Linked DNA regions of Homo sapiens: region 2 is linked to region 1. Evidence: fine-mapped expression QTL. A gene starts in region 1. The other region holds a variant in brackets. All regions are shown on one strand. Distances are from middle to middle. Region 1 holds the start of ADAM28 (ADAM metallopeptidase domain 28). Region 2 overlaps ADAM7-AS1 (ADAM7, ADAMDEC1 and ADAM28 antisense RNA 1).

Evidence for each region.
Region 2: its variant is fine-mapped to the expression of ADAM28 in whole blood (TOPMed, PIP 0.99).

Annotation. Positions count from the first base shown.
Region 1 is chr8:24,289,746-24,300,716 of GRCh38, forward strand. ADAM28 (ADAM metallopeptidase domain 28) reads left to right here and starts at 4,324. Exons shown (of 23, transcript NM_014265.6): 1 at 4,324-4,450; 2 at 10,229-10,332. The coding sequence starts at 4,405. It overlaps ADAM7-AS1 (ADAM7, ADAMDEC1 and ADAM28 antisense RNA 1), which reads right to left. Exons shown (of 6, transcript NR_125808.1): 5 at 6,409-6,505; 6 at 6,069-6,312.
Region 2 is chr8:24,357,635-24,368,605 of GRCh38, forward strand. The region is part of intron 3 of ADAM7-AS1 (ADAM7, ADAMDEC1 and ADAM28 antisense RNA 1); the gene reads right to left. ADAM28 (ADAM metallopeptidase domain 28) reads left to right here. Exons shown (of 23, transcript NM_014265.6): 23 at 1-1,380. Among named protein-coding and RNA genes, the nearest start is that of ADAMDEC1, 21 kb to the right of the region's middle. The variant C/T (reference allele first, on the strand shown) is at 5,466.

The sequences.
Region 1 (10,971 bases):
CGTCAAAGTCAAGCACAAATACTTAGCAGGATATCTTCCCATTCTCTCAGGCATTCTTTGCTCCAACAATTCCAAACACTACCAGCCATAAACTAATGTGCTATAATATATTGTCCTTATTTATTCTCATAATTCTTTTTTTCCAACTTTTATTTTAGATTCAAGGAGGTACATATCCATCTGTTACATGGATATATTCCGTGATGCTGAGGTTTAGGGTACAAATAATCCTGCCACCCGGGTACTCAGCATAGTATCCAATAGCTAGGTTTTCAGCCTTTTCCCCTCTTCCCTCCCTTCTCCAGCAGTACCCAGTGTCTATTGTTGTCATCTTTATGTCCATGGGTACACAGCGTTTAGCTCCCATGTATAATTGAGAACATGCAGTATTTATAGATTTTGGATATTAGACTTTTGTCAGCTGTGCAGTTTGCTTATATTTTCGCCCGTTATGTAGGTTGTTGGTTTGCTCTGCTGATAGTTTCTTTTTGCTGTACAGAAGCTCTTTAATTTAATTAGGTCCCACTTGTCCATTTTTGTTTTCATTGCAATTGCTTTTGAGGACTTAAGTCATAAATTGTTTCCAGGGCCAATGTCCAGAATGTCATTTCCTAGGTTTTCCATAGTTTGAGGTCTGACATTTAAATCTTTAATCCATCTTGAGTTAATTTTTGTATATGGTGTAAGGTACCGGTTTTCTGTTTCTGCATTAATTCACTTAGGTTAATGGCCTCTAGGTGATCCATGTGCTGCAAAGAACACAATTTAATTCTTTTTTATAGCTGCATAGTATTCCAAGGTATATATGTACCACATTGTATTTATCCATTCCACCACTGATGGGCACCTAGCTTGATTCCATGTCATTGCTCTTGTGGATAGTACTGTGATGAACATAAGCATGTGTCTTCTCGGTAGAATAATTTATTTTCTTTTGGCTATATATCCAGTAAACGGATTGTTCGGTCAAATGACAGTTCTGTTTTAATTTCTTTGAGAAATCTCCAAACTGCTTTCCAGAGTGGCTGAACTAATTTACATTCCTACCAACATTGTGTGTTTCCTTTTCTCTGTGGCCTCACCAGCATTTGTTATTTTTTGACTTTTTAGTAATAGCCATTTTGGCTGGTGTGAGTTGGTACCTCATTGTTTTGATTTGCATTTCTCTGATAATTAGTTATGTTGGGCAATTTTTTCACATGTTTTTTTAACTGCTTGTATTTCTTCTTTTGAGAAGTGTCTGTTCATTTCTTTTGACCCTTTTTTTTTTTTTTTTTCTTTTTTTTTGAGACGGAGTCTTGCTCTGTCACCCAGGCTGGAGTGCAGTGGCGCAGTCTTGGTTCACTGCAACCTCCTCCTCCGGGTTCAAGTGATTCTCCTGCCTCAGCCTCCCAAGTAGCTGGGACTACAGGTGCCTACCACACGTGGCTAATTTTTGTATTTTTAATAGAGATGGGGTTTCACTATGTTGGCTAGACTAGTCTCGAACTCTTGACTTCAGGTGATCTGCCCACCTTGGCCTCCCAGAGTGCTAGGATTACAGGCATGAGCCACTGCACCCACCCTTTTGCCCATTTTTAAATGAGGTTACTTATCTCATGCTTGTTCAATTGTTTAAGTTCTTTATAGATTCTGGATATTAGACTTTTGTCAGCTGTGTAGTTTGCTCATATTTTCACCCGTTATGTAGGTTGTTGGTTTGCTCTGCTGATAGTTTCTTTTTGCTCTACAGAAGCTCTTTAATTTAATTAGGTCCCACTCATCCATTTTTGTTTTCATTGCAATTGCTTTTGAGGACTTAAGTTATAAATTGTTTCCTAGGGCCAATGTCCAGAATGTCATTTTCTAGGTTTTCCATAATTTGAGGTCTTACATTTAAATCTTTAATCCATCTTGAGTTAATTTTTGTATATGGTGTAAGGTAGGGGTCCAGTTTTATTCTTCTGCATATGGCTAGCCAGCTATCCCAGCACCATTTATGAAATAGGGAGTCCTTTTCCCAGGACTCCTGCCACCAGGATGCACTCCCTGCCCTGTTTGGTGTAGACCTCTGACTTCTATTGATAAATCTATTGTAACACTAAACACCTTGTGATATTGTGATCATTTATAGGTGGTACTCACTCTGTGCAATTTTATGGTAATTGAACTTATCTTTGTCAGATTGTGAACATCTCAATGAAAGTGATTGTGTTTTTTGTTTGTTTGTTTGTTTGAGACACTGTCTCGCTCTGTTGCCCAGGCTGGAGTGTGTTGTTGCAATCTCAGCTCGCTGCAGCCTCTGCCTCCTGGGTTCAAGCAATCAAGCAGTTCTCCTACCTCAGCCTCCTGAGTAACTGGGATTACAGGTGACCACCACCACACCCAGCTAATTTTTTTTTTTTAGTAGAGATGGGGTTTCACCATGTTGGGCAGGCTGGTCTCAAATTCTGATCTCAGGTAGTCTGTCTGCCTCAGCCTCCCAAAGTGCTGGGATTACAGACATGAGCCACCACTCCCGGCCATGATTGTGTTTTTTCAACTGCAATCTCAGTGTCTGACACATAATAGCTGTAAGTAAAATTACGTTGAATTAATGGAGAAAAAATATGTAATAATTAAAAGTTGAAGTATCCTTTCTGTTCCCTGGAAAAGACAAAGCAATGGAACTTGGGTTGAAAAGGCAAGAAATCTGTGAATCGCAATCCTGATGGTTAAAATGCTCAGTAACTAGACTCAAAAATTCCTTTGTGGTTTTAGTTGATGACTGTATAATCATTTGGAGACATCAATAATCACTGTAATCCCTCTAGTATGAGAATGTGTTTCAGAATCTGTAAAATGATGCATGATTTTAGTGGACTAGGACTAGGTTTTGTGGTAATAACTGGTCCTCAGCGTAATTTCTATTCCTTAGGAATTTCATAATTATTTCTATTCTCCCAGAATCTTTTCAATAGAAATGATACTGGGAGTACAAGTCAGCTAAGCCAAGGGAAAGCATTAGAGTATATGACTAAGAGCCCAGACAACACATAGTTCAGATTCCACTTCTACCACTTACTGGATAGGTGACTTTATCTGCTTAATCTTCTTAATCTATACAATGAGGGGACAACTGATTCTTAATCTTTTGAATTTTGCCTTTAAAACCCCAAATTTTCACCTGCAAAATGATTGTAAATGCATAATACATGAGTATCATAAAGACTAATAAAATAACAAGTACAGTAGATTTAGGAGAGTACCTGTATTAGTCCATTTTCATACTATCACGAAGAAATATCTGAGACTGGGTAAATTAAAAAGAGGTTTCATGGCCTCACAGTTTCACATGGCTGGGGAGGCCTCACTCTCATGGTAGAAGGTGAAGGAGGAGCAAAGACACATCTTACATGGAGGCAGGCAAAGAGAGCCTGAGCAGGGGAACTGCCCTTTATAAAATCATTAGATCTTATGAGACTTATTCACTATAATGAGAACAGCATGGGAAAAGCCCGCCCCTTGATTCAATTATCTCCCACTGGGTCCCTCCCACAACACATGGGGATTATGGGAGCTACAATTCAAGATGAGATTCAGGTAGGGACACAACCAAACCCTATCAGTACCTAAAACTTAATAAGCAGCTCAGTTGATATTAGTTATTTTATTGGTTATAAGTATGATTTTTAGACATGCCCAGTTTAGCCTTACTACCACCAGTGACAGATCCTAAAATTGTATCCTTTGGGTCTTGAATCCTTCTTCCACACTCCTCATTGCCAGTTATGACACAAATACCCCCAAGGATCTAAAAATTATTGTGCTTATATTGTCAGACATTCTTATTTCAGGATAGTTCAAACTTCCTGAGAGTACACTTGTGTGAGGAATAGAACATAAAATAATGGAAAAGAGAATGCTATATAGTAATTAGGTTGAATTAGAAATTGCTTTACATAACCACATTATGTATGTGGGGGAAAAATAACATTCTTAATAACTTTTTTCCTACAACTGTATATATATAAAAATATATTTAAACATATATTTATATATCATATCCGTAATGTAAATAAATGTCTAGCATGTTTTTCAAGACTCATTAATGCAGTTGCCTCTTTCCTTGTAGCTTATCTGGCTATAGTAATATGTTGGAAATGTACTACTTTGGAGTGGGGAGTATGGCAAAGGAGAGCAAAACAATAGTTCAGATCAAGTAATCTTAGAGCCAGGAGGCAGCCAGGACTTCCGCCTGCTGGGCCATTGTTGCAGGACCACAGCTTCGAGGTTGCGCAACACCTTTAGTAAACACTTCCTGAATCAGAGACAAGAATGAACCAGGGAGTTTCATTCTGTCTCACTGGAGAGGAGGCAGGGACAGACCCAGCAGCACCCACCTGAGCGAGAAGAGCAGACACCGTGCTCCTGGAATCACCCAGCATGTTGCAAGGTCTCCTGCCAGTCAGTCTCCTCCTCTCTGTTGCAGGTACATATTTAGCTCTTTTTCAGGTTCTATTGAATGCATTAGCGAACTTTTCATAGTCTCCTAATAGTTTTATTGTATAAACTATTTTGACTTTTTTCTTTTTCTTTTTTCTCAATCAATCTTACTAACCAGTTGGGCTGGTTTTAACCTGTTGTTTGGGGGCTGCGAGTGATACAAAGACAATGTTAAAAAGAGGCAACAAGAGGTCTTGAACCAATATGTATGCATCTCATCTGAGAATATACAGAAATAAAAGGGACAATTTCATACAGCACAATTTAAATCATGAATATGATTTTTGACTGAAAAAGTGGAATTCATCAAAACCCAGCTTGTCATTTAAAGAATGGTAAAGATGTGGCAGATTTATTTATTTATTACTGTGTACAAGGCTTAGGAAAATACCTACTATTATTATGGGAGCCAGTTTGGCTCTTTCTGTTTGAGTGTATATTTTTGTATTTACTCATTATTAGTAATAATACGTGTGACTAACTGGAAATAATTAATATTTTTTATTTATAAGGTACTGTGATATTACTTAACAAAATATCTCTGTTAAGCTTAAATTGATAATTTACTTCTATTTTGCTGATTATACCAAACATTTAAAAATTTGAAAGGAGAAAAATACTACTTCCTAACAGGAAATTATGTCTAGCAAGTCTCTCAATTTCTGGTAAATTCTCTAATTAGACTTTGGTTAAATTAGATTGGGTATTGTGATTCTTCAGCTTCTATTTCCAGAGCTTATTTAACTCAGCACATGAACTGCAGTGCCTCGAATTCCTCCCAGTAAACCTGTTCTTGGGTCTTAGAATGTTTGCTGGGACCTGGGGATGGGAACAGATTATCAACTAGAGGTATGGGCTTAGGGAGGGAAAAGTTTTCCTTGTCCATGCACCCTCTTAGTACTTTGTTGCTAAAAATGATTTTCCTGTGTCTCACCTGTTTCTGATTTGTTTTCAAGACTTATAAAAATTTCACTTAACCTAATATCTTTAAATATCGAATTATTTTCCTTTTGTTTCTGTGTATTTTTGCTTTATATAATATGTACCTATATCTGAACTGAACCTTTTCCCACTGTGCTGTGATCCTCTTCATCTCTAATGCCTTTTGCTTTGATACCTATTTTGTCTGATGTGAACGTGTTACACCAGCTTTCTTTTGGTAAAATAAGCCTGAAATATTAAAAATATATATAAAACTCATGCCAGGCATTTAACATTGACCTGAAATTCCTACTTTTTGAGGCAGACTTAATAGAAATGTTTTTTTCTCTCCGTTCTCCAAAAATGCTATCACCAAGAGCTTTTCCAGAACCCCCTCTAAGCTGAAATACAAGAACTGCTTGGGCACTAGCTTAGTTGAAGAGCGTAAAGATCAAGCTGGATCCATTAACAGAGTCACATGGCTAACACTGGGGCCCATGCACATTACAGTCCTTTTGTGCAACTGGGCACACTAATCAGTTCTGCTGCCCCGACGGTGCATGTATAACATGGCACCAAGAGATGCAACTTCCTCTGATGTCAACTCTAAAAGTGTGATGTCACCCCTCCTTTAACTTCTAGCTTCTATTTTTAAGGGTGTCTTTTTGCCACTGAACTATCCCTGTTATGATTCCCATTTGGGTTGCCTTTCTAGTCAGAATATAAGAAGTAAAGCAATTTTCATTTCCCAGTTCTTCCTGTTTGTTCTCTGCCCCCATCATCAAAGCAATACATATGTGCCCCTCTGACCATGACTTCTGCCCAGTCCCCAGATGGTTGAAATAAAAGAAAGAGATGTAAAATAAGGCTGGTTGTGTGCAGTGAACTTCACAATCCCGAGAAAAAATTGACTTATGGGATTTCATCCTAGGAAAAGGAAAAACAAATATTTAAAAGGATGTGACAGGTGTTTGCGGGGTGAAGATGTAAATGATTGCATCAACAAAGGAGAAAGGTGCTTACCTTATTACAGCAGAATACTCAGGGGGTACAGCACTTTTTGAAATTATTTTATTTCAAACTACCAGTTCTTCCTTGCCTTTATAAGGTAACTGGAAGACTGAAAAGAAAATATACAGTTTAATCTAAATAGTCAAAATAACAGACCTAATAGAAATGCAGTTTTTTCCCTTTTGTTTGTACTCACTTTTAATGCATGAAGTTTAAAACCACAAGATGGTTTGAGGAGATGCAGAGAATCCCAGGACATAAGTCAATATCCTTGTGTAAACCCTAATTCAGCGTTTAATATGATGTGTTCAGTTTGGAAAGAAGACATTTCTTTGAACAGTTTCAAACACATTTGAACGAAAATGAAAATGTCAATATTACATACTCATGTTCCCATTTCCAAAATGACCCCAAACACATGAACAAATAATGTAGCAATCCAGACTAATGTCTCTCATATTAACGTTGTTAATGAGCTTTGGCTTTTCTAAGACTCAAAACAGTCAAAAATAATTATCCCATCTAAACCAAAATAACAGTTTTCTTTTTCCTGATCTGGTTTTGCTAGTCAAGACTAATCCAGTGTGTGAGTTCTGTGGGAGAGAGAAGGCAAGTATTAAAATGAATTAGTAAAAACATATTGTGTTACACCTTGGATTTGTGTAATCCCTGGATGGCAGTTAGTTGTGTTTGTTCCTCAGGCTTCAAAAATAATTAACGTGATGTTATTCAGTGGGGAAGACGCTGCACCATTTCCATTAAACTTAAGGATGGATGAGCTAAACAATATTTAGGTCTGTTACATCCCTACAATGGCTGTGTAATTTGTTGTATTCCAGATCCCATTATTTCAGGGACTTCTAGGTTTCCAGAAAATAAGAGCCTTTAAGAGAAATTCCATTTAGTTTCTTTAGAGAATATATGGAGTGACAGGAGTTTGGAAGGAGCTGGAATTCCATTCACTTCAAACTGAAGAGATTGAGAGGTTGCCAATGATTTCTAAAAGAAATGTTGTGGGTTTTTTTTTGTTGTTGTTGTTGTTTGTTTTATTTTGCTTTGTTTTTGGTTTCCATTTGGAAGTGTTCGGCCACCAAAAAGTTGGAAATAAATTACATAACTTACATATTTTAAGCCCATATTTAAGAGCCAGTTTGCAATTTCTAATTTCATGAAACATTGGGATTCAGATACTAACTAGAAGCATAGAGGTCAGGGTGCATGTGAGAGAAAATTTGTGTTGGCTAGATGAGCCTGTTTTCCTTCTTACCATTTCTGAATGGTGCTGAGAAGGAAACTCACTTCATTTTCTGCTTTTATACAAAAAATCGGGAACGTAGCTATTATTTTATTCCACGAAGGCAGCTTGGACTACTATTTCCTGTTAGAATCATGTGTGTTCTAATATAGCATTTAAAAAGATTTATGTTGGCTGCAACATTGGTGAAATTTGGCTTCTTGAACTCTCTATCTTAACAAGACTAATTGCATTGATTAGCTACTGTAATGTACCAGGCAGCACGTGGGTGCCTTATGGTATGCTTGTTTTGTGTCCCTGAATTAAGGAGGCAGCAGGGAATTGTGTCAATATCATCAGTTAATTTCTGGCAGGAGTAATTTTCTTACCTCTTGGCATCTTAGTGTTTCAAAATAATTACAATAATTAGAAAAATTTTAACTCAGAAAAAGAATCATCAATTTTTCTTTAGGTTTTTGAACTTATGTTTCAAAAATTTTTTATAATTGATGTTATTCTTTTCCTTTACCAAAAGTTAATTTAATAGAAATAAAAGACGCCCAGCGATTACCTCTGTGACAGCAAGAAATGAGGAACTGAAGAACCCCGTGATGTTGTTCTTGAAGTGTGACAATGTAATGAGGCTTATTTTATCACATTGGATCAGAATTCAGTTATCCTAATGATCACTGACTCTTGAAAGAGGTTATAGGGGATTCTGTACTTGTATGCATAAATCATAAACCACTTGAACTAGCTTTAGAAACCATTTAATTGGCGTCCTTTTTTCAAACTATTTAAAGACTCAAACCAAATAAAAAAAATAAGGTATTCTAATGTCAGTGCCATGGCTTTAAGTAATTTTGAATTTTTTTTTAGAGTAACTCTTACACCACTGAAAGAAAAGATAGTTCATTACTTTAACACCCCATTTTTGACTCAAAGAGTTCTTAGCTGGTTTAAACCCTTTTTCTGTTCTTCAAAGTTAAATGTAAGTGACTCTTGAGTCGTTAAATGAATTAAAGTCATTCTCGAGTAATTTTTAAAAAACGCTGTTTTTTGAAAGTTTATGCTTTAGTTTCTGAAGAAAACTTTAAACAATGTTTTGCTCTGTGGGAAGTGACTGGAGTAAGTGCACAGTCCTCCTAGATAAGCAAGGAATAATACTTATTAAGTGCCTCATCTATGTTTGTTAAAAGATCAACCACAGTAACATAAATGTATCTCACCATAGAACTTAAGATTTGAGTACTTTAATGAGCTGGCATTACCTTTAGAGACCCTCCTAGTCCTTACTCAGAGAAGAGAAAAAAACCTTTTCAGTTTTAGTCTTAGAAAGTTGTAGAGTTAGGCCCCATTCTGCTACTGCAGTCTACATTTTGGTTAAGCCTGTAGCCACCTGTAGCAGCTAAGGAGCAGGTCTATCGACTATATACAGAGCAGAGACTAGACCACATGGGCAAATCAAAAAGAAAATAGAAAATCTAATGTTAGCTTCGAGAAAATTGAATCTCTCTCTCCAAAATGACTTCTAGGCCAGGTGCTGTGGCTCATACCTGTAATCCCAGCACTTTGGGAGGCCGAGCCAGGAGGATTGCTACAGCCTGGGATTTCAAGACCAGCCTGGGCAACATAGCAAGACTACTTCTCTAATAGAAAAAAAAAAAAAAAGCCAGGCATGGTGGTGCACACCTGCAGTCCCAGCTACTCTGGAGGCTGAGGTGGAAGGATGGCTTGAGCCCAGGATGTTGAGGCTGCAGTGAACCCTGTTTGTGCCTCTGCACTCCAGCTTGGTGACAGAGTGAGACATTGTCTCAAAATACAATAAAACAAAATGACTTCTAAAGACAACATGGAGAGGAGCATTTAAAATGCAGATAGGTTGGATCAAATCACTTTTCAGTTCTCTTTCAATATGACTGCAGGCTCAAAAAAGTCCTTCCAGGCCAGTGATTCTGTTTGAATTATCTGCTTCTCTAATTTTCATTTTTTAAATGTTCTGTATGCAAAAATAAGGTTTTTCTGTACTGCTTATGCCAGCTCATTCTATGAACCTAGTATTGGAGCCTTTTCTTACTGTGACATAGTTTTTTTTTATTAGTATAGAATATTGCTGTTTTCAAATCCAAGAAAAATAGAATAAAAATTGTGCACATTAGTTATTTTATTTTTCTAACATTGTATGGTTTCCAGTGCTTCAACCCAATTTTTCTGGGACTGATTCGCTTCTCAGAGGATTACTTTCGCTTCTATCTTCACTTCTTTTTGCCTGAGCTGTTGCTATTTCCCTGCACTGCAGGATCAAAGATAAGAAGTGGGAAAATCCAAAAGAAATACTTTCTCTAAATACAGTAACACCTGTAAACTTTTAGTGGGGAAGGATCTGAAGATATAGGCTAAAGTAAAACTTTAAGAGGAAAGAGTAGCTTTCTGAGGTTGTTGCTCTCTTCTGGTGTCAGCACATTAATCACTCTGACATTCATCACTTCAGGCTTCTGTGTGTGGCATCGTTCATTGGGAATGCAGTAAGGATGGCCTTTACTGACCAGCCTACTTCAGTTCTACCTGGATAAGTCTTTTCTTTTTCTTTTTTCTCAGTAAGTGCTATAAAAGAACTCCCTGGGGTGAAGAAGTATGAAGTGGTTTATCCTATAAGACTTCATCCACTGCATAAAAGAGAGGCCAAAGAGCCAGAGCAACAGGTACAGCTTTTGATTTATCAAAGGATCTTGATTTGAGATACATATATACACACATATATATATCTATCTATGATGAGAGATAGATATGGGATTTATACATGTATGTTTATATATGTGTGTGTGTGTATGTGTGTGCCTGTGTGTTTCAAGTGGAATTTGTGATGTTTTCAGCAATTACACCTTGGAGTTAAATAACAATGATTATATTTGTATTTGTTTTTGACCTTTTAAAAAATCTTCACTATAACCCAAAGTTATATTATTAACCTCATTCTACAAATCAAGTTTCTGAGAAGTGAAAGAAACTGTCCAAGGTTAAAAAGAGTAAATTTGTTTTTTGTTTTTTGTTTTTTTTTCCAGACAGAGTCTCGCTCTGTCGCCCAGGCTGGAGTGCAGTGGTGTGATCTTGGCTCACTGCAAGCTCCGCCTCCCAGGTTCACGCCATTCTCCGCCTCAGCCTCCCGAGTAGCTGGGACTGCAGGCGCCCGCCACCACGCTCGGCTAATTTTTTTGTATTTTTAGTTGAGACGGGGTTTCACTGTGTTAGCCAGGATGTTTTCTATCTCCTGACCTTGTGATCCGCCCGCCTCGGCCTCCCAAAGTGCTGGGATTACAGGCGTGAGCTACCGCCTAGCCATA
Region 2 (10,971 bases), 68 kb after region 1:
TTATAGCAATTAAAAAAATGAGATTTGGGGGGATGGACACAGAGCCAAACCATATAATGTTTTAAATGCTCCAGATAGGTTTAGGTAAAATTAACTATATTTAATAGGCTTTCATCACTGCAAAACTTTTTTTCCTTTCTTTGTGTCTCTAGTCTCTTCCATTTGTTCTCCCTTCTTTACTAGCACCGAGGATTTGCTTGAAATCTCTGATAGCCAGTATTCTCATTTATCATATTCTTTCTCACTTTGTGTTTCCTTGGTAATTTTGGATAACTCCTTAAATTTATCTTCCAAATTACTGGTTTTTATATTCTGTACTGTCAGTCCTCCTGTTCACTAATTTCAAAATTTATAGTTGTTTCTCTTGTTTACTTATATAGTTGTTTCTCTTGTTTACTTAATAACATTCTCTTCTTTCCTATCAGTTTAATTTTATAAAGGCTAACCAATTAACTGTTTTTAACTTATATTTCCAGATATTTTAAAAATTAAAGCAAAATGTGTATAAACTTTATTACTGCTTCCCACAGTAAATATTTTTCAGAAGTACATGCTTTCTCAGCCACTTGACTAGTATGTTCCCCATCATTCAAAGACACCATTATTTCCTAAGTGTTATATTGCTATTTTTCAGTTGGTGCATCCAATATTATTATCAGCTTTAATATTGTTTCATCATATGTCATTGTTCAAAGAATCCATCTCTTGAGCGTAAGCTAAATAATTTGCATACACTAGCATCTGGATGTAATATGGAAAAATATGGAAATGGTTGGGGTGATAAGCAAGTCTTGCATATTCTTTTCTCCTCAATTTTTTTTCTCCAAAGTGGGCCAAGCCAAGAGTGGCACAGCTGTGTGGAGATACTGAGCTCCACCTTGTCAGGGAAGATCCCAACTCAGGAGAAAACACCTCTAACAAAATCTGTAGCCACGTTGGCACATCTGCCCTTGAATTCACTTTGTCTCTTTTGCTGCTTCCATAAAAAGGCTTTCCCTTGACAATGTTAGGCACTTTTTAGCAACTAGGCCTGGGTGGTCTGCTACAATGCCCAACACTTAATACAGTATCACTATTACTGTTAGTAGTATGCTAAGCGAATACTATTGTTATAAAAAAAATCCTAAGCATGAAAATTACGGTATACAATTTATTGTGAAGGCAACTTCTTGTGAACATTAAACGGTTTATCTCCTTCACCTCATATTAAAGTCCATACTCTTGGGATATATCTGACATCTCAATATTAAATGACTAAGATGACTAAGTCGTTTATGTTGCTCCCACCTCACACAAAGTTAAAACTATTTGTTACTTTAAATAGTTTGACAATGTTATTTTAAAATCTGGACAAATCACAAATATAAAATACTTATTTAATTTTCTTCTGTAAAAAGATGTATGCTTGGTCAGGCACAGTGGCTGATGCCTATAATCCCAGCACTTTGGGAGGCTGAGGTGGGTGGATCACGAGGGTCAGGAGTTCGAGACCAGCCTGGCCAAGTTGATGAAACCTCATCTCTACCAATAATACAAAAATTAGCCAGGCAGGATGGCGGGCACCTGTAATCCCAGCTCTCAGGAGGCTGAGGCAGGAGAATCACTTGAACCCAGGGCACAGAGGTTTCAGTGAGCCAAGATCGTACCACCGCACTCTAGCCTGGGTGACAGAGCAAGACTGACTCCACCCAAAAAAAAAAAAAAAAAGCAAAAAGAACAAAGCTGGAGGCATCACACTACCTGACTTCAAACAATACTACAAGGCTACAGTAACCAAAGCAGCATGGTACTGGTACCAAAACAGAGAGACAAACCAATGGAACAGAACAGAGGCCTCAGAAGTAACACCAGACATCTCCAACCATCTGATCTTTGACAAACCTGACAAAAACAAGCAATGTGTAAAGGATTCCCTATTTAATAAATGGTGTTGGGAAAACTGGCTAGCCATATGCAGAAAACTGAAACTGGACCCTTTCCTTACACCTTATACAAAAATTAACTCAAGATGGATCAAAGACTCAGACGTAAGACCTAAAACCATAACTCCAGAAGTAAACCTAGGCAATACCATTCAGGACATAGGCATGGGCAAAGACTTCATGACTAAAACACCAAAAGCAATGGCAACAGACGCCAACATTGACAAATGGGATCTAATTAAACTAAAGAGCTTCTGCACAGCAAAAGAAACTATCAGAGTGAACAGGCAACCTACAAAATGGGAGACAATTTTTGCAATCTATCCATCTGACAAAGGGCTAATATCCAGAATCTACAAAGAACTTAAATTTACAAGAAAAAAAAAATCCCCCATCAAAAAGTAGGTGAAGGATATGAACAGACACTTTTCAAAAAAAGATATTTATGCAGCCAACAAACTATGAAAAAAAGCTCATCATCACTGGTCATTTGAGAAACGCAAATTAAAACCACGATGAGATACAATCTCATGCCAGTTAGAATGGTGATCCTTAAAAAGTCAGGAAAACAACAGATGCTGGAGAGGATGTGGAGAAACAGGAACACTTTTACACTGTTGGGAGTGTAAATTAGTTCAACCATTGTGAAAGACAATATGGCAATTCATTAAGGTTCTAGAACCAGAAATACCATTTGACCAAGCAATCCCATTACTGGGTTTATACCCAAAGGATTGTAAATCATTCTACTATAAAGACATATGCACACGTATGTTTATTGTGATACTGTTCACAAAGCAAAGACTTAGAACCAACCCAAGTGCCCATGAATGATACACTAGATAAAGAAAATTTGGCACATATACACCATGAAATACCACACAGCCATAAAAAAGGATGAGTTCACGTCCTATGCAGGGACATGAAAACCATCATTGTCAGCAAACTAACAGAGGAACAGAAAACCAAACACCACATGTTCTCACTTATAAGTGGGAGTTGAACAATGAGAACACACGGACCCAGGGAGAGGAACATCACATACCGGGGCCTGTTGCGGGGTGGGGGAGTAGGGGAGGGATAGCATTATGAGAAATACCTAATGTAGATGATGGGTGGGTGGGTGCAGCCAACCACCATGGCACATGTATACCTATAGTAACAAACCTTCACATTCTGCACATGTATCCCAGAACTGAAAGTATAATTTTTAAAAAATTTAAAAAACAATATATGCTTAATATAGAAAGGTTGAGAAACAAGAGAAAGTACTAAGACAAAAATTTTTCCTAATCTCACCAAGTATGATTTCAATCAACACTTGGAAATATGACCTTTTCCTCTCTTTTCTGTCTGGTATATAAGTTAAGTATTAATTCAATATTTATGCTATTTGTATTATGGCTTTTAATTTTACTTAGTAATATGACACAAATCTATAAGAATATTATGCAGCCATCAATACTATTTTATTAATGAATAATGTTTTACTTAATATCTGATTCAACAATGAAATCTTTTTTCAAAAATGTTTATGGCTAAAATAATGCAGTGATGAACAATGGTGTATATACCATCTAAAGGCAGTTCTCTGTATCACAGTTCGGGTTCCTGGGCAAGCAGAATCTGAGATGGATTTTAGCAGCCAGGAAGTTTATTATGGAGGGCTTTCAGGTCAGGTCCCCTATTTGTTTAATGGAATGGGAGAAAGCAGGATTAGGCTGGAGGAGTTGGGAATGATGCTGCCTCAAAGAAGGCTTTAGCTGGCCCAGCCAGCCCTGAACCTGGGCTATCCTTCAGAATGAAGCCAAGTTGAGGCAAAAGGGAAAAGCTTTTACTCCCTCATGTCAACTAGTCACAGGTACAAATTGCTCTCAAAAGAGCTGTGACCTTGGGCAAGATGACTTTATTTAGTGAAAGCATTTTCCAGGTACAAATTGCTCTCAAAAGAGCTGTGACCTTGGGCAAGATGACTTTATTTAGTGAAAGCATTTTCCAAGGCAAGTTGATGGCTGTCTGCAGGTAGCACAGCCAACAATTGGGGGATAAGTTCTTCTGTGCTTAATGGCGACCTGTGCAGCCCAAAACAAGGCCTATTTTTTCTTTGAGTCTGGGTTTCATTGCATTGCTCAGACTGGTCTCCAAGTCCTAGACTCAACAATCCTCTTGACTCAGCCTTCCAAGTCACTGGGATTACACATGTGATCCACAACACCCAACGTTTATTACTTCTTATTTCCTTTGGATAGTACTCTATATGTTGGCTAGCCCCCTAAAAGTTTTCCAACTTTTTTGCTACACTTTGCAAAAATTTTTCTCTAGTAGGAATATGTATGAATTTAAATTTCCATTAGCAATTTATGAAACTGTTTCCACATAGGCATTCTCATTCTTAATACCTGCCTATCTTAACACCTTTCCTTGCTTAGAGGATTCCCACATTGCACATCTTGGAGATATAGCTCCTTTGCTATTTGCAGTGGCAACTGGAAATATTCTGCATGTTGTTACCAGATTCTTTTTATTTTTTCCTGGAGACAGGGTCTTGCTCTCCTCTCTTGCACCAGGTTGGAGTGCAGTGGCATGATCTTGGCTCACTGTGATTTCAACCTCCCAGGCTCAAGCAATCCTCCTACCTCAGCCTCCAAAGTAGCTGGAACCATAGGCATGCACCACCACACTCTAATTTTTGTATTTATTGTAGAGAAGGGGTCTTGCCATGTTGCCCAGGCTGGTCTTGAACTCCTGGGTTCAAGTGATCTGCCTGCCTTGGATTTCCAAAGTACTGGGATTCCAGGCTTGAGCTACAGTGCCTGGCCAACCCTCTTTTGCACCTATGACATAGTTATGGCCAAGGATCTACCTTTCAGATGTACCCTCCCAGAACTTTGAATCAGAAGTATGTAATATAAAGCAGAAATTACAGAGAATTATCTTTGGTGATGCACACTGTTATAATAAGGTTGAGTTCCTCAGGAAGTCTTGAGACTAGTGCCAATTGCTGGTTCAAGGCTGGTCTAGTGCAAGGAGTATCAGCAGTGTCAGCTGAGTGACTGGCAAGGGTGAGACAGACATTCTGTATTATTCAGCTCCACGATACAGGCTGGAATTCCTCATTGCATAGCTACCAAGTTTGGTTCTCCAGTCCTCATGTCGAGTCCTTCAGCTACCTAAAATCCTTTGTTTTAACTCAAATATTATGTTTTATTGTGGTAAAATATATATGACATTGAATTTACCATTTTAACCAGTCTTAAGAATACAATTTGGTGACATAAGTACATTCATTGTGCTGTGCAACCACCACCACCATCTATTTCCAGGACCCATTCGTCATTCCAAACAGAAACTCTATATCCATTAAACAATAAATCCCCGTTATGTTTTCCCCTCAATCTCTGGTAACCTCTACTCCACTTTCTGTCTCTGAATTTGCCTATTCTAGGTAGCTCCTATCAATGGAATTATACAGTATTTTTCCATCTATGTGTCTGACTTATTTCACTTTGCACCATGTCTTCAAGTTTCATCCATATTGTAGCA[C/T]GTATCAGCATTTCATTTATTTTTAAGGCTAAATAACCTAATCATCTTTTAATATATTTATTTTCTATTTGAGAGGGCTGGAGATAATTTCTGTTGCTCCATGTCATCATTCAAATTAACATTGTTTTTCTCCACTTTATACATTTTAATTTACAATTTTTTTTGATGGCAAACCTATTTTAAAATGGATAATGATACATACTTTATTCCTAGTATTTTAGAACCTCATTTAAATCAGTTATTGCTATTCTCTTCTTCATGAGAACCACATCCATTGTTTCTTTCTAAGCTTAGTTGACCAAGCACAGACAATGGCTCAATGTTGAAATCTTAGCTGTGCAATCCTGATGGGAACAACAATTTAAGGAAGTTCAGAAAATTATCTAAATGAAAAATGAAATGATGATGCTATGACTAGAGATAACGGTCCCCTCCTGATGTCCCAGTAGCTTTTGAGAAAGCAGGTATCAACTGCTGGACCGCAAAAGTTGCTCCATTTCTCATAGAGAAGACTCCAATGCACAGGCCAAGTGCTATGTCTCAGCAGATAACACTGTTCCCTTGTAAATCAACATGTGTTGCCAAATTGGCCTTGATCTCTCTAACTGCTGTGGAATAGCTCTGAGATTCGTGGGTCTCTTGAGACATGTTGTAAGTATAATTGAAATGGAGCCTGCAGGAGCCAGTTCCTGGCAAAACTCTCTCAGTTCTTTTGTGCCCATGGCAGGGCTGAGTAGATCCACTGGAAAGCTGCAGTCTCAGATAGGAAATAAGGGAACGAAAATGTAGCAGAAATATAAAGACAAGAGAATAAGAGAAAAGTCAGTTTTTGGTGCAGGATGGTAAGCCACACACAGAAAACAAAGTATAGATAGTCCTCCTGGCTCTGCCAAAAACTAGCTCTTTAGCCTTATGCAAATAATTTCAATTCTTTGATTTTACCAGTCTTAAGTATACAATCTGTACATTTACTCATCTATAAAATGAAATTAAAAATGTATGACTTGCCAATATTCAAACAGGATTTTTTTGTTCTTGTTGAGACAGAATTTTATTCTTGTTGCCCAGGCTGGAGTGCAATGGTGTGATCTCGGCTCACCGCAACCTCCGCCTCCTGGTTTCAAGCAATTCTCCTGCCTCAGCCTCCTGAGTAGCTGGGATTACAGGCACACACCACCACGGCTGGCTAATTTTTTGTATCTTTAGTAGAGGCAGGGTTTCACCATGTTGGCCAGGCTGGTCTCGAACTCCTGACCTCATGATCAACCCACCTTGGCCTCCCAAAGTGCTGGGATGACAGGCATGAGCCACTGCACCCTGCCCCAAAGAGGATTTTCTAAGAAACATGTAAGGGCAGCATGAAAATATAAAGAGAAGAGAGGGAAATGTCCATCATCTAGAAAGGCAAGTAGCACGTATCCATCAGTGCCTACCTGAAGGAGGACTCCGTTGTTGAGCTTGTCAGCACAGAGACCCTCTCTGAACAGTCTATTGCATCATATGTCTTTAAGCAGAAAGTAAGGTTTGGGGAAATAATTACTTGCTGTTTGTACATATTTCATTGGTGAGTACGTATTTCACTGGTGAGTTTTTTTTGAGACAACATCTCTCTCTGTTGCCCAGGCTGAAGTGCAGTGGCATGGTCGTGACTCACTGCAGCCTCGACCTTCTGGGCTCAAGTGATCCTTTCACCTCAGCCTCCAGAGTAGCTGCAACTATGGGCATGCACCACTACACCTGCCTAATTTTTAAATGTTTTTTAGTGACAGGGTCTCCCTGTTTCCCAGGCTGGTCTCAAGTTCCTGGGCTAAAGTCATCCTCCTGTCTCAGCCTCCCCAAGTGCTGAGATTACAGGCATGAGCTGCTGTGCCCAGCCGAGTCTTTTTTCCTTGGTCTTTTATTCTCCTGATGTGCTTTTAGAATTTTCTCCGTAATCCTATTCGGTTTTCTCATCTTATATAATTAAGTTGAATCTCAGTCAGAACTTCTGGGCCAAATAAAATACTGTCCTAGATCTGAGGCTGCATTGTGCAAAGACCCTGGATTCATATTTTGGGGAAATTAACATGGACTGAATTCATACAATTTTTAGAAAATAAAGTCATAGCCAATTTCAAATTTGATTATTTCTTAAAGTAAGGATATCATAAGGTAATAACAAAAGTACACAGTAGCACATTCTGATTTATGCAAGTTTGTGTGTATTTTTGTGTGTTCGTATGTGTGCATGTATAATTTCACTTAACATTTATGACAGTCTTGCACAGGAATCTTACTTCCTTTCACACAACCACACTGTCTGCAGCAAAACTATTTTGCACTGAGAAGCACATTTAATACTATATTATTAAATATGAGAATTCTATTTTATCTCCAGCAACAAATTCTTCTAGGCAATGTTTCCAGTGAAAGTGTATCTGAAGTTGCAGTCAAATCTTTTTTTAATTTTTTCATTTCCAACTTTTATTTTAACTTCAGAGGTACATGTGCAGGATGTGCAGGTTTGTTACATAGGTAAGTAAACAGGTGCCATGGTGGTTTGCTGCAGATCATTCCATCACCCAGGTATTAAGATCAACATCCATCAGCAATTCTTTCTGATCTTCTCCTCCTCCCAACCCCCTCTGACAGGCCCTAGTGTTTGCTGTTCCCCTGCATATGTCCATTTGTTCTCATCATTTAGCTCCCACATATAAGTGAGAACATGTCATATTTGGTTTTCTGTTTCTGTGTTAGTTTGCTTAAGATAATGTGCTCCAGTTCCATCCATGTCACTGCAAAAGACATGATCTCATTTCTTTTTATGGCTGCATAGTATTCCATGTTGCTTATATACCACATTTTCTTTATCCAGTCCATCACTGATGGGCATTTAGGTTGATTCCATGTCTTTGCTATTGTGAATGGTGCTGCAATGCAGACAGTGGATGTGTCTTTTTAACAGAACAATTTCTATTCCTTTGGTTATGTACTTAGTAATGGGATTGCTGGGTCAAAAGGTATTTCTGCCTCTAGGTCTTTGAGCAATCGCCACACCCTCTCTTACAACAGTTGTACTAATTTATACTCCCACCAATAATGTAAAAGCATTCCTTTTTCTCCACAGCTTTGCCATCATCCATTGTTGACTTTTTAGTAATAGCCATTCTGCTGCAGTCAAATCTTATGCCCCTTGATTTTCTACTCCTGAAAATCCGTTCTCATTTTTCCCCATTCTTGTTACTAGTGATTAGCAGAGAGCCTGGGAAATGGTAAGCACTCAATAAATCAACTAACAAAAGTCTTCCACCAAGATTCTGAGCTTAATACATTGTGTAATTTACACTTATCTGGTTGTTTTCTGTAATTCTGCAATACAAACATTTACAAAGTCTCCATTTACTAAGTGGACACTGGAGCTAGAAGGATTAACCTCTTTCCCTGCCGTCCAGGGATTCTCATCCTAGCTCTAGAGACTGACATAAATATAGAAATAAATAATCACTAAAATAAATTGCTAAACTATGAGAACAAGAAAGTACAGAGGAAATGTTTATCAAGAGAAGGCATGAGAAGTTTCTCAGAGGAGGTGCCGTTTAAATCTTGAACTCTAGGCAATTTATCAGATCTATAAAGGAAAAAGAGAAAAAAAAGTCTTCTAGAAAATAACGGAGTTAAATAATAGCCTTGCTAAGTCATGAATCCACAAGGGCCATGACATGTTCAGGGAACTGCAAGCAGATCATCAAGACTATGGAAAACCAAAAATTGTTATTTTTGAATACGTTTAGGTATTTATATATACCATGTTTCATCAAAGATACATACATATTTGTGCATACACAAACTTAGGAGATTTAGAAAAGTATAACACCCCCCAAAAATGAACATTTAAGAAAATCAGAAAGCAAGAAAGTTCTAGAAACCATAAAGCCATGGGTCAGATGAGACTTGTGAAATTTAAAATATACGGCCCTACGTGTTTGATAAATATGAGCTCCAAACTGTACTCCAAACTATCTAAGAATAAAAAAGTAAACAAGAAAAGTAAACAGGATTTATATGAGACTCACAGTGTCTATAAAGAACAAACATACCATCATGGAAGACAGCAAAACCACATAAACACAACAAAATCAGCCAAGTGAATAAAAATTAATGGTTAAGACTGAGCTGTACATACCATCATGGGAGACAGCAAAACCACATAAACACAACAAAATCAGCCTAGTGAATAAAAATAAAAAAGACTGAGCACAGCTCTTTTTGCTTCTGAGACCTAAAATTTGTACTCAGGATGGTGTTGCTGTTGTATCCAACTAGAGAACCTGTCTGTACCTTTTGCTTGATTCCCCACCCTGGGAGCCCCTCAGTACTTCATGGCTACAGACTCTTGGCTGCCTGCCCTAACCACACTGCAGTCACACACACAGTCATAAATAAACCCCAGCAGGAAGCGAGACATAGGCTCAAATTAGAACACCCTCTCAACCTTTTCATCAATAACTTTCAGCACTGCTCAGGGTAATGGAAAAATTGTTTCTAACTGAGCTGCATATCATGAGTTTGGAAGCCAAGTAATAGCTTGCCTATTCATATCATCACTGAACAAGTTATTTCACCTACTTTTAGAATACTTGAAATACTTTTTTAATATAGATCATAGCATCTTTAAATTTTCCTTCGAGGGAATTCAGTATCTGAAAACACAGTGGCTTTAGTGACATTGGTTACAGTTTTATCACTGCCTAATCATTAATTATAATTTTTAAAGGTTCTCAGTTGATTATTTGAGGAACTGTATTTTCCTTACAGAATAATTCCTAGGTATATTGGATGATCTTTTCCGGTGACTAAAGTATATGTAGGGTGTTTGTTACAATATTTGTTCTCTTATCCTTTAATTATTTTGTTTGTAATCAATCCAGCATGGAGTAAAAGAAATAAGAGTAAAGTAATATGTATATTTTTTATTTTCTAAAAATATTGAAAGAGTTCTTCATGTAATAATGGTTCTTGACAAAATGTATCAAGAACCATTTATACCAACCACTTTATACTAACAAAATCTGAACACAGAGGGAAGGAATCAAGATGTCAGTATTTTAATAAGTTCTAGAGATGAATCTAATGTATACTCTTGATTAAGAAACAAAGATTTAATGGAAATATCTCGGCTCTAGTTGGCTACCAACATCTTATGCCTACTATTATCTTAAGAGATTAATTGTATGCTGTAAGTATTGATCTTGATTATTCATGCAAATTAGTATCCGAAATAGCAAAAGTAATTTGATTATAAAAAATTCAAATTCAAAAATATATGTTTGTAATGTCAACTGTTTATCCAAAGAATTTTCAAATTCTAAACATAGGATATTTAACTGGTGGTACTGCTAAAGCCTCTGACTTTACCTGGAATAAAATTATTATGTTTTGTTTTTATTACAGTAGTTTTTGGGGAACAGGTGATGTTTCATTACATGGATAAGTTCTTCAGTGGTAATTTCTGAGATTTTGATGCACC